Linked DNA regions of Homo sapiens: region 1 is linked to region 2. Evidence: fine-mapped expression QTL. A gene starts in region 2. The other region holds a variant in brackets. All regions are shown on one strand. Distances are from middle to middle.

Region 1 (5,396 bases), 110 kb before region 2:
TTTTAGATTACAGAAAATATTGATCAGTTAGTGCAGACTCAATCAACAGCTTAATTCCAACTGGTCTCATCAGAGAATGTGGACATCTGTATTTTACATGTACATCTGTGATTCCTTTCAGGTTAAATTTTGTGAAAGGTTTAAAGTCTGTGCACTATTTGATCTCTACCAGTGCTGCCTGGATTTATCGTTATTCTGGACATGACAACACAGCGACCATCATAGACTGGCAGAGAGTGAAGGACTGTTTCTTATGCAGAGGCTTCCACTGCATGCCAGACTTGTGGCCCCTGCCTAAGATGATCCTATTGTTTTCTGGAGGAGGAGACCACATTGCACAGGGTATTGCCCCTACTCACTTTTGGCAGATTAACTACAATGGATATTTGACCCTCTCTTGTAGCTGTCCGTTGAGCCTCACTCTGTGTGCGCTTTCCTAGGTGATAGTATTACTATTCCAGTCTTATCAGCCAACTCAAGCCATTCCATTTGACCTGTGAAAATAATCCATGTCAGGTTTTCAGGTTTCCAAGCCATTTACAGTCTGAAAATGGTGCCTGTCTTATCAAAAAAGCCACTTATAAGGCTAATATTTAAAGTATTTGGTGGACTTCCATGCTCCCTACCATCTGTAGGCATCTGGTATTGTTAAGCTTTGGTATGGCCTCCTCAAAATTACACAAAAGCAATTTCTGACTCTACCTTCCTCATCTCTTCTTGGTCCACATATTATGAATTCAAGAACAGTCCCTGAACTAGTGCTGTCTTGATTCCTATTTATTTTCTGACCTATTGCTTAACTTGTGTATGCTATATAAGCTGTGTTTAATGGTAACCATTGATTTAAAAACACTTACTGCTATTTGCAAAGTAAGTCCTTAGTTTTAAATTATATCCTTCCGAAAACTGCCACTTAAGTAAAGTTATTTGCTACTGATTGCTAAGAAAATGTTACTTCTTTTAACATGTAATGCAAATCATGGCTGTTTTTGTTTTGTTTTGTTTTGTTTTTTCCTGTATGAACAACTTTCTTCCCTGGGAGAATTAGATATAGCAAATTTGCACAGAGGCATACTCTTTCTTAAAGGGAATGTTAAATATGATAAATGGCTTCTCAGATATGTATGCTATTTTCATTGTGTTTTACAATTCTTTTTTTTTTTTTTTGTAAAAACATGTTAGCATCAGTTTTTTTTTTTTTTTAATTTTAGGTTTAGGGGGTACCTGTGGAGATTTGCTACATGGGTAAATTGAGTATTCTGGGGATTTGGTTTACAGGTTATTTCATTACCCAGGCAATAAGCATACTACCCAACAGGTAGTTTTTTGATCCTCACCCTCCTTCTACTCTCCACCCTCAAGCAGGTCCTGGTTTCTATTGTTCTCTTCTTTGTGTCCACATGTATTCAATGTTTAGCTCCCACTTATAAGTGAGAACATGCAGTATTTGGTTTTCTGTTTCTGTGTTAGTTTGCTTAGGATAATGTCCTCCAGCTTCATCCATGTTGCTGCAAAAGACATGATCTCATTCTTTTATGTGGCTGTGTCATATGCATGGCTGTTTTAGTCACTTACAGTTTCAGAAAAATGATTTTTAAAATGGTCTAGCTTCCTGTTTCTCTAGTATAAATGCCTGAATGTGTTTTCTGGAAATCTTATTATCAAATCACATTTTATTTTTCTAAGCAGAATGAGTTCAAGATTGTAAAGGATTCTGATTTATATAAATAGGCAGTATGACAGGTATTCAGGGGTTTTCTTTATATGCATGCACTTGCCCATTATTTCTGTTTACAAATTACGTTACCTAAATACATCCAATTGAGACAAAATCTCAAAGAATGCATGTTCAGAACATGATTATAATACTTACATAATCATATGTATAACTTGTATCAAGAATTTTTCCATCCTTATATTATTTCTTATTCTCATTACATCAAAATTTTTCCTGCCTCATGTTATTTCACATTATTATCTGTCTCTACATTCCTCCCTCTTTCCTCTTCCAACAAAAAATCCTTTTATGATTCTGAAGCTAATGTTGTTACCTGTGGTCCTACTTGTCCAAATGATAATGACACTAATGTGATAGTTAATAGTGGTCACCACATCCAGGCTTGCAAATCTCAGTTTTGATTTCCTTCTCCTCTGTTAAGTAAAACCTACTGCTTCTGGGCCAGATACACAGATTTGACTTTCAATATCTCTTGCAGTAGAATTTTATTATTTTTCATCAGAAATGTCTTTCTCCTTTCCCATGACACAAGTTAGAATTACCAACAATCGTTACAATAACATCGGTGGTCTAGGTGCTAAATGTTCTTTCCAGGGCTAGCAACACTGTGGTTGGAAGTGTTCTGTACAGAGGAACGTACAGTGAAATGATGTGTCAGCCACACTTTTTGCACACCTTGAGTGTATTAACCAGATGCCTGATGTTTAAATGAAAAATAATCACTGGATTAAATGCAGGAGAAAAATCTCTTTTCCTTTCTGAAGAAAAAATTCAACATGGGCTAGATCAGAATAGAGATGGACCGCTTCAGAATAAATATTTATTTAATAATTATATGGAAAACATTTAAGTAGCCAATATTCTAGGAAAATATACAGCAGAATACTTAATCAGAACTTTGTTTTTATTTCTTTATTATTAATTGCAAATAGATTTTTTAGCTACCCATAGTCTAGACAATATTGTGTAGGGCAGCAGGATGATGTTCACGCCGTGCTCCATCGTTGAGTATCAGAAGATGCCAAGAGTTCAGGACAGATTCTAGCCATTTCCAGGACCTGAAAATGAGGAAGGAGCTAGAGAATTATATAATTTTTCCACTTTCTCATCCCAGCTTCTCTTCTCCTACCAATGCTTTCCAATGGTTGAAAACAGACAGAAGCCAGAGGGTGAGGAAGACTGTGTGATACAGTTGTCAGAGCTCAGCTGCACAGAATGCAGCAAAAAAGCATGGAGAATGGAGGTGAGGTGTGGTTTGAAAACCAGGTGTTGAGAATCCTGCCCCCAGAAGCCTGTGGTGGTAGAGTTGTGAAAGATCCACTGGGAACCCGTTGCACATCCATATAATAAACTATGTGTGAATGTTTCTTGTAGGTAAAAGGGGTCCAGATGAG[A/G]GCAGGGAATAACCTGGACTCATCCTAGATTCTATAGTAGGCTGAATAATGGCTCCAAGTATATCCAGGTCATAATCATTGGAAGCTGTGAATGCTACCTTATAGGGCGAGAGATACTTAGGAGAAGTGAGAAGAGATTGAGGATCTTGAGATTGAAGGATTATTTTGGATTATCAAAGTCAGCTTAAAATGTAACCCCAAGTATCCTTATAAAAGGGATGCAGAGGGAGATTTGAGTACAGAAAAGGAGGAGGCAGTGCAATCATGGGAACAGAAGCTGGAAAGACAAAACCACAAGTGAGGGAACGCTGGCAGACATGAGAAGCTGGATGAGGAGAGGAACAGATTCAGCCCTGCTGTAACCTTGATATTAGCTCCATAAGACTTTTCAGACTCCAACCCTCTAAAACTGTAAGAGAATAATTTTTGTTGTTTTTCTTACTAAATTTGTGCTTGTTTGTTACAGCAGCAATAGTATACTAAGACAGCTGCCATGCATGAAGAGTGATAGGTGGGATATAGCGCTCTAACAGAAAATATGAGACACCTGGTTTGAGGGTGAGGAAGAATCAAAACCACACAACACACAAGTGCAGGTTCATTGCCCATGTCAGGAGTTGTAGTTGCAGGGCTCCGCAGGGATGTATCCAAGAACCCCCTGAGATTCTCTCCCGAGACAAAGAGAGGAATCATCTACACTACCTTTTTCTGTGCTGATTTTCTCATCTGAGTTCAGTTGGAGCCAAAGGAAAAAGAAAAATTTTAGCTTTGCATAAAATTCAAAAATTTTGTTATTATATAGATTTAGGAATTTGAATTCCTGAAATGACACATTCCCGTGACTGAACATGACTAAGAGACGATTATCTGAGAATTACTTACATAATTGGAGACTCCGGGGAAGCAGGTGAAGAGCAAGACTATATATCCAATTTAGAGGGAAATTGAGGGAAACCTTGGTCATAAACTTACACGGCAGTATTTGAATTATTCTAATTGTTTTGGTTACATAAATAGAATTCTGTAGTCTTGAGAAACAATAATTCTCATACAAATGTAGCCTTCTAATCTGAATTCTGTTAAAACTACCAATAACCACTAATCTCTTCTAGTTTTAATCTTCTGGTTTATCATTTTTGTGAATTTGAGAATAAAGTACTCTGATCGTTATATGTCACTCTTCTATTCATTATTTTTATAAAAATATAAATATTTGATTTCTCTAACATTGCCTATAATTTTTTAATGTCAGCATTATATAATAAAATACATTCTCCATAAAGTTACAAATATCAAATAAAAACATATACACATATGTATACATACATTTTTTTTTTTTTTTGAGACTGAGTTTCACTCTTATTGCCCAGGCTGGGGTGTAATGGCATGATCTCGGCTCACCACAACCTCCGCCTCCCGGCTTCAAGTGATTCTCTTGCTTCAGCCTTCCTGAGTAGCTGGGATTACAGGCATGCACTACCATGCCCGGCTAATTTTGTATTTTTAGTAGAGATGGGGTTTCTCCATGTTGGTCAGGCTGATCTCGAACTCCTGACCTCAGATGATCCGCCTGCCTCAGCCTCCCAAAGTGCTGGGATTACAGGTGTGAGCCACCACATCTGGCAAATAAAAATATAATTACTATAAAGTTCATATATAGTATTATGTTTAAAATGGTATGCCACTTTATATTTTGGCTTTAAGTTATTGGTCCTGTGACTGAACTTTGGCTTCTTTCTCTTTTGTAAGAAATATTGTAGAGCATACATAATGATGTGGGTACAAAGTTAGAAGATGTGTTCAAGGAAGGCATTCCAAAGGAGGTGTCATTTGAGTAATGTCAAATGAGCGACGTTTGACGTAGAGAGTCTCTAAAATATTTGAGCAAGGAACTGTTCAAATAGTGGACAGTCTCTACAACCTAAGACTGAATGGTTTGTTTGAGAAGTAGCATTGGGGCTAGATCAGAGGGAGGGACTGAGCAGAAATAGGTAGAAATAAAGACAGAGAAATTGTCAGGGAAACAAGAGTGTAGTAGATATTATTCAAGGTAGGTTGATGTATTCGTGAATGTCCAGGCAGGAAAACAAATTCTGTGCCAAGTCATTACATAGAGGGAAGTTAACAGAGGAGGGTATTTATCAAACAGTTGGAGAAATCTAAGAGTCCGTCAGGAGAAAGAAGACAATTCAGATATGGGCAAAACAGAAAGCTGGTACTATTCCCAGAGCTAGAGGAAACAAGGGAGCAGGTGGGTTTACCAG
Region 2 (5,396 bases):
ATGTACTTCCCCTGACTATCCTTTTTAAAGTACAACATGAACTTACTTTTGTTTTATAGTACTACATTATTATGTTTACACTTTACTATATAAATAAAACTATATTTATGCCATGGAAAGTACCCTTAGCAAAATCCTATATACTATTAAAATTAGTTAATTCGTAATGTATAATGAAACCTAACATTACCAGAAAGGGACTTGGTTAGTGAAAAGGCAGATGTAGGGAGAAAGACATGTATTTAAATCACAGATCCACATATACAAACTTGATAACTTCACAAATAACCTAGCTTTTGCATCCCAGTTTTCCTAATTTGCAAAAGACGAAAGAAATAAAAAAGAAAAGGATACTGTCACAATCCAGTATGGGTATTTTAAAAATAAAATAAAAATATAATGAACTTAGCATCAATAACATCAATCATTTAGTAAGCTTTTAGTAAATAGCAGTGTGTCTAATTTTCTTCTTTTCTTTTTTTTTTTTTGAGATGGAGTGCAATGGCGTGATATTGGCTCACTGCAACCGCCGCCTCCTGGGTTCAAGCGGTTCTCCTGCCTCAGCCTCTTGAGTAGCTGGGATTACAGGCTTGTGCCACCATACCTGGCTAATTTTTGTATTTTTAGTACAGACGGGGTTTCACCATATTGGCCAGGCTGGTCTCGAACTCCTGACCACAGGTGATCTACCCACCTCAGCCTCCCAAATTTCTGGGATTATAGGCATGAGCCACTGTGCCCAGCCATCTAATTTTCTTTATAATGAAGGACATACATAGGCTAAAATAGTGGGGTCTAATGATTTAGAACAAAGACAGATAATCTTGCCTCTGAACAAAATACCTAAAGAATCATTTTGCTCTCTTGAAATATTAATTATTTACTGATGATTAATATTTACTTAAAAGCCTTTTTTAAACTTTTATTTTTGGTTCAGGGGTGCATGCGAAGGTTTGTTACATATGTAAATTCATGTCACGGGGGTTTGTTGTACAAAAGCCTTTTATAAATTAAATGATAATATGAATTATATTTTATAGGTAAAATTAGACATTGATTGCGCATGTAATACCTAACTCAGTTATTTTACATATGGAGTAAAGAGAGTAGGTATCACTTTATGGATGAAGAAATTGAATGCTAGAGATGGCCAAAATCATAAAGCTTATTTAATATAATGTTACCAACTGTGAATAAGTTATAAATTTATAAACACCTTTAGGATAAAAAGTGCTTTAACATACATGTCAGTTGATTTGAATATTACACAAATCTAAGATAAATATGGAATGTTTCATGCCTGTATTTGATAGAAAAAGAAACTAAACTAAACTACACAGAGGTTGCAAATTGACCCTTCAAATCTAGAGAGCGGTAAAAGTTTGAGTAAAATTCAAGTCTGACTCCACATCTATTTCACTATTTCAAGCTGTCCCAAGTTGTGAGCGACTTTACCATAATATAGTTAATAAAATAAAGGGAAAAAAGTTTTTAAGTTTTGGAAGACTTGATTTAAAATACAATATGAACATAACATGAAATCAACATAAATAGAACATGAAAAGAATCAGAGTAAATTGCTTGCCTATGCCTTATATGCTTGTATGAAATTCTTGGTATCTTAAAATTGTATAAAAACAAAACTACACACTTATGTGGTAAAAACATACCCCAGCTGTGTCGAGACCTCCGACCACGAATCCACCCCATCAAATACTTATAAGTGCACGTCTACCGCAGAGAGGAATCTAAAGTCTTCAATGCACAAAGGATTCCTGAATAAAATAAAACTGGGCATTTGTTTTTTGTTCTCTTTCCCGTGGTGAGATAAAATATTTTGAATAGAAAAGTAAAATGCAGAAACTTTTCCCCTGTGCATGCCTTTAAGAAAAGAATAGAAATGACAATTCACATAAAGCCAGGCAAAATTAATTTTATACATTTCTCTTGGTTGTAAAATAATCGCCAATTACTTCAAAATGTCATAACAATATAATGAACCTATTAATTCACCTACATTGAGATATTTAATACCAATATTTTACTTTACTGATATTAGATAACAACACACCCAGTTTTCTGTTTATAGTCGTTTATTGCTTCTTGGCCTTTTAGCTAAGATCAAGTGTTTCCAGTTGTTTATTTTATCTGGCAATAATTTAGTTTTCTTTCTGCAAGCTAAACTCAGGTAAGTTATATGCACTTTTGTTGAATGTCCTTTTCTAGTGCATTTTAATCCAACGTGCCCATATCATCATCATCAACAAATTATCATCACCATCATCATTAACAAAACTAATCTCACATGTTTATATAGTAACATCTTAGCAATGCACAGCAGAGCTTCCAGAAAAAACCATTTAATAAATAAGCATAGTGCTTAGATTTCAAAAATAAAAGCTATTTCATATTTGATTATGATAGTTGGAAAGCACAGATATAACTTGTTTCACCTTGCATGTAAAGATGTGTATCAAAGGTAAGTGCCCCCTACAGCATCAGAAAACTCAAAAATTTGACAATTTAAATTGAATCTCAATTCTTCTCATCCTAAATGTAAAGATTCATTTTTCTAGTTTTGCTTAGAGACAAGGCTTCTTCTTATAGTAATATTACAACTTCTGATTCTTCAATAAGTATATCCTAATTACCTATCATCAGATACAGTGATAGAATATACATCAGAAATGATAAGCATTCCGTATCCTCAGGAGTTCTATTCAAGCATCTAAGAAACAATTAGAATTACCTTATAGTGTAAATATTTTTATTTTTTTGAGGTTGAAATATAATTTCTCATATCTTGAATAATAAACACACACACATACACACATACACACACCTGCTCAGAGAGGGAAGATCTTGATTCTTGTGGATAAAAGCCTTCTATAAAACTAGAAAATTTAGATATGTCCTCAGTTCCTGATCTAGAATTGAAAGTGGAGATACTTAGTGAATTTCTATCTTTGAGAAAGATGTGACAAATATTATAATCTCATCTTCCTGTGGAAAAACATAAACCACAGTACTTCCGCCTTATCACTACAAAAATATTGTTAATTTGGTAAAAGAGTTAAGACCACCCATTGTTGGATAAATGTTAGGTTGGTGCAAAAGTAATTGTAGTTTTGCCATTATTTTAAATAACATTTTAGGATTTGAAAATGATGAATTTAAATGATGCCATTTAATCCTAAATATTTTAGAGATTCAATTCAATTCCAGTTAATACCTCAGGTTTTGTTGTAGAACTTACAAAGCAGAATTCTACATGTACATTAAATTACAAAAGTCAAGACTAGGAAAGTCACAATTGAAGATGAAGAAAATGTGGGAGCCTTGTTTTACTAGATAGTAAGACCTATGTTAAAACCGTATTAATAAAGGCAAAGTGGCATGTGGGGCATAGATAGACAAATTGAGAAGGGTAAAAATACAGACAAGAAAAAGTCATGTGCATAGATTAAAAAATATAAGGTAACATTGCAGATAAAGTGGGAAATTAGCTCCTATTCAATAATTTGTCCTGGGTTACTATCACACTGGCCTTTAAGTTACAAAAAATTAGTCCTGGGAATTTTTAAATTTTAATATAAAAAACATGAAATTGCATCTCTGTCATATCTACATCATATGCAGGAGAATTAGAAACTTAAATATATACCCCAGTATACATAAGAATAATATATGAATTGATACCAATGAACAAGATAAGCTAAATATATATTTTATGTTTATTAATTTAAAATACTAACATAAGACATCATATAAAGTAATATAAGATGAACACATTATAACATTTTAACAAAAACCAAAGCTATTAATCTTAAAACTCTGAAATATAAGGAAGGAAAACAGCTTTCATGTGGTGATGTGTTAAAGTTGGACAATAAATTTATTCAACATTTTTTTTCTTTAGCGAATGCTATTTGCTATGCACTTTTCTAGATCTTGAGAATGTCAAAGTAAACAATCCAAAAGAAAGTTTTTGCCCACATGGAAATTAATTACTTTTTTTTTTTTTTTTTTTAAGAGATGGAGTTTCACTCTTGTTGTCCAGGCTGGAGTGCAACGGGGCGATCTCGGCTCACTGCAACCTCCGCCACCTGGGTTCAAGCAATTCTCCTGTCTCAGCCTCCAGAATAACTGGGATTACAGGCATGTGCCACCACACCTGGCTAATTTTTGTATTTCTAGTAGAGACGAGGTTTCACCATGTTAGTCAGGCTGGTCTCGAACTCCTGACCTCAGGTGATCCTCCTGCCTCAGCCTCCCAATGTGCTGAGATTACAGACGTGAGCCACCACACCCAGCTGGAAATTACTTTTTAGTTTAGGTGATATAAAATGAATAAGTATAAAACAAATTCAAAATTAAACAAGATAGGTGAATATAAAACAAGTTGAAGAAAATATGTTATTTTCTGACATACCAAGATTCTTTTCAGCTAATCAACATTTTCTATTAGCTATTTTATATAGTAAAAATAGATCTATATAGAGGAAATATAGGCTGATATTTTCTAACAACTACATTTTAACAAATATTTGGTTTTTGAAAGGAAATGAATAAATGAGTAAATGCAGGCTTTTTATGGGAAAAACCTGAATCACAATTTCCTGAAGAGTTATTTTTATATATGTAGTTTTCGATTGAATAGAGATTGTCTCTTAAATACAGAATTGAGAAAAGGGGGATAGGAATAGGATAAAAAAGAACATTTGAATATCCTACCTATTTCGTTTAGTTCAAATGGCAACTTACAGCCAACTGGGAAGTCCCCACACATACCTAAAAGAAGATTTCTGAAATAAATACCATGATAAAGCTAAGCACCAGGGAGAGTTTTATTGTCATATATAAAGGTCCCTAAACCAACTGACAGAGTGTGGAAAGGATTCTTAAAGAAGAAAATTCTAAAATGGGTCCTGTATGTCGGGTTAAAACAATTAGTTAGATAAAGAAATAGTATGTTAAAACTCCAATTTCTTTCTCAATGTTGAACATACACTCACTTTGCTGTAGTCATGATAGTAAACTTATTGGGGATTTGCTGGGCATTTGTACTGGTTTATTCTATGTGAATTGCAAAAGGACATAGCATAGTTTTCAGATAAAATACTTTCTAATAAGTGAAATAAAACCAACGCAATTAACTTCTGCAGAAAGAATAATTTGACTATAAAAGTACCTGAACAAACTTCATATAGACGTATCTATATAACTTTCAAAAACTATTGTTAGAAGAAAAATTACAATATTTTGCAAACAGCCTGGGCTCAAGTCATTTGAGAACATCCATCACCACAATAAACTATTTAATTACTTTCATTAGTTGAGAAGAGCCAACAATCAACCGGCCTTTTTGGTCAGTAAGCTAACTCGCACTGTGGCCT

The links. PIP is the estimated chance that this variant, and not a neighbour inherited with it, causes the effect. A credible set is the group of variants that fine-mapping cannot tell apart.
Region 1: its variant is the best candidate, but not a certain one, in a credible set for the expression of KLRK1 in whole blood (TOPMed, PIP 0.76).

Annotation. Positions count from the first base shown.
Region 1 is chr12:10,277,800-10,283,195 of GRCh38, forward strand. It overlaps LOC105369656 (a long non-coding RNA gene), which reads right to left. Exons shown (of 2, transcript XR_931353.3): 2 at 2,636-2,796. It also overlaps a transcript of KLRD1 not described here. Among named protein-coding and RNA genes, the nearest start is that of KLRD1, 27 kb to the right of the region's middle. The variant A/G (reference allele first, on the strand shown) is at 3,133.
Region 2 is chr12:10,387,101-10,392,496 of GRCh38, forward strand. It overlaps KLRK1 (killer cell lectin like receptor K1), which reads right to left and starts at 2,941. Exons shown (of 8, transcript NM_007360.4): 1 at 2,843-2,941; 2 at 1,671-1,775. The coding sequence starts at 1,710. KLRC4-KLRK1 (KLRC4-KLRK1 readthrough) reads right to left here. Exons shown (of 13, transcript NM_001199805.1): 6 at 4,735-4,791; 7 at 1,671-1,775. The coding sequence starts at 1,710. The region is part of intron 3 of KLRK1-AS1 (KLRK1 antisense RNA 1); the gene reads left to right.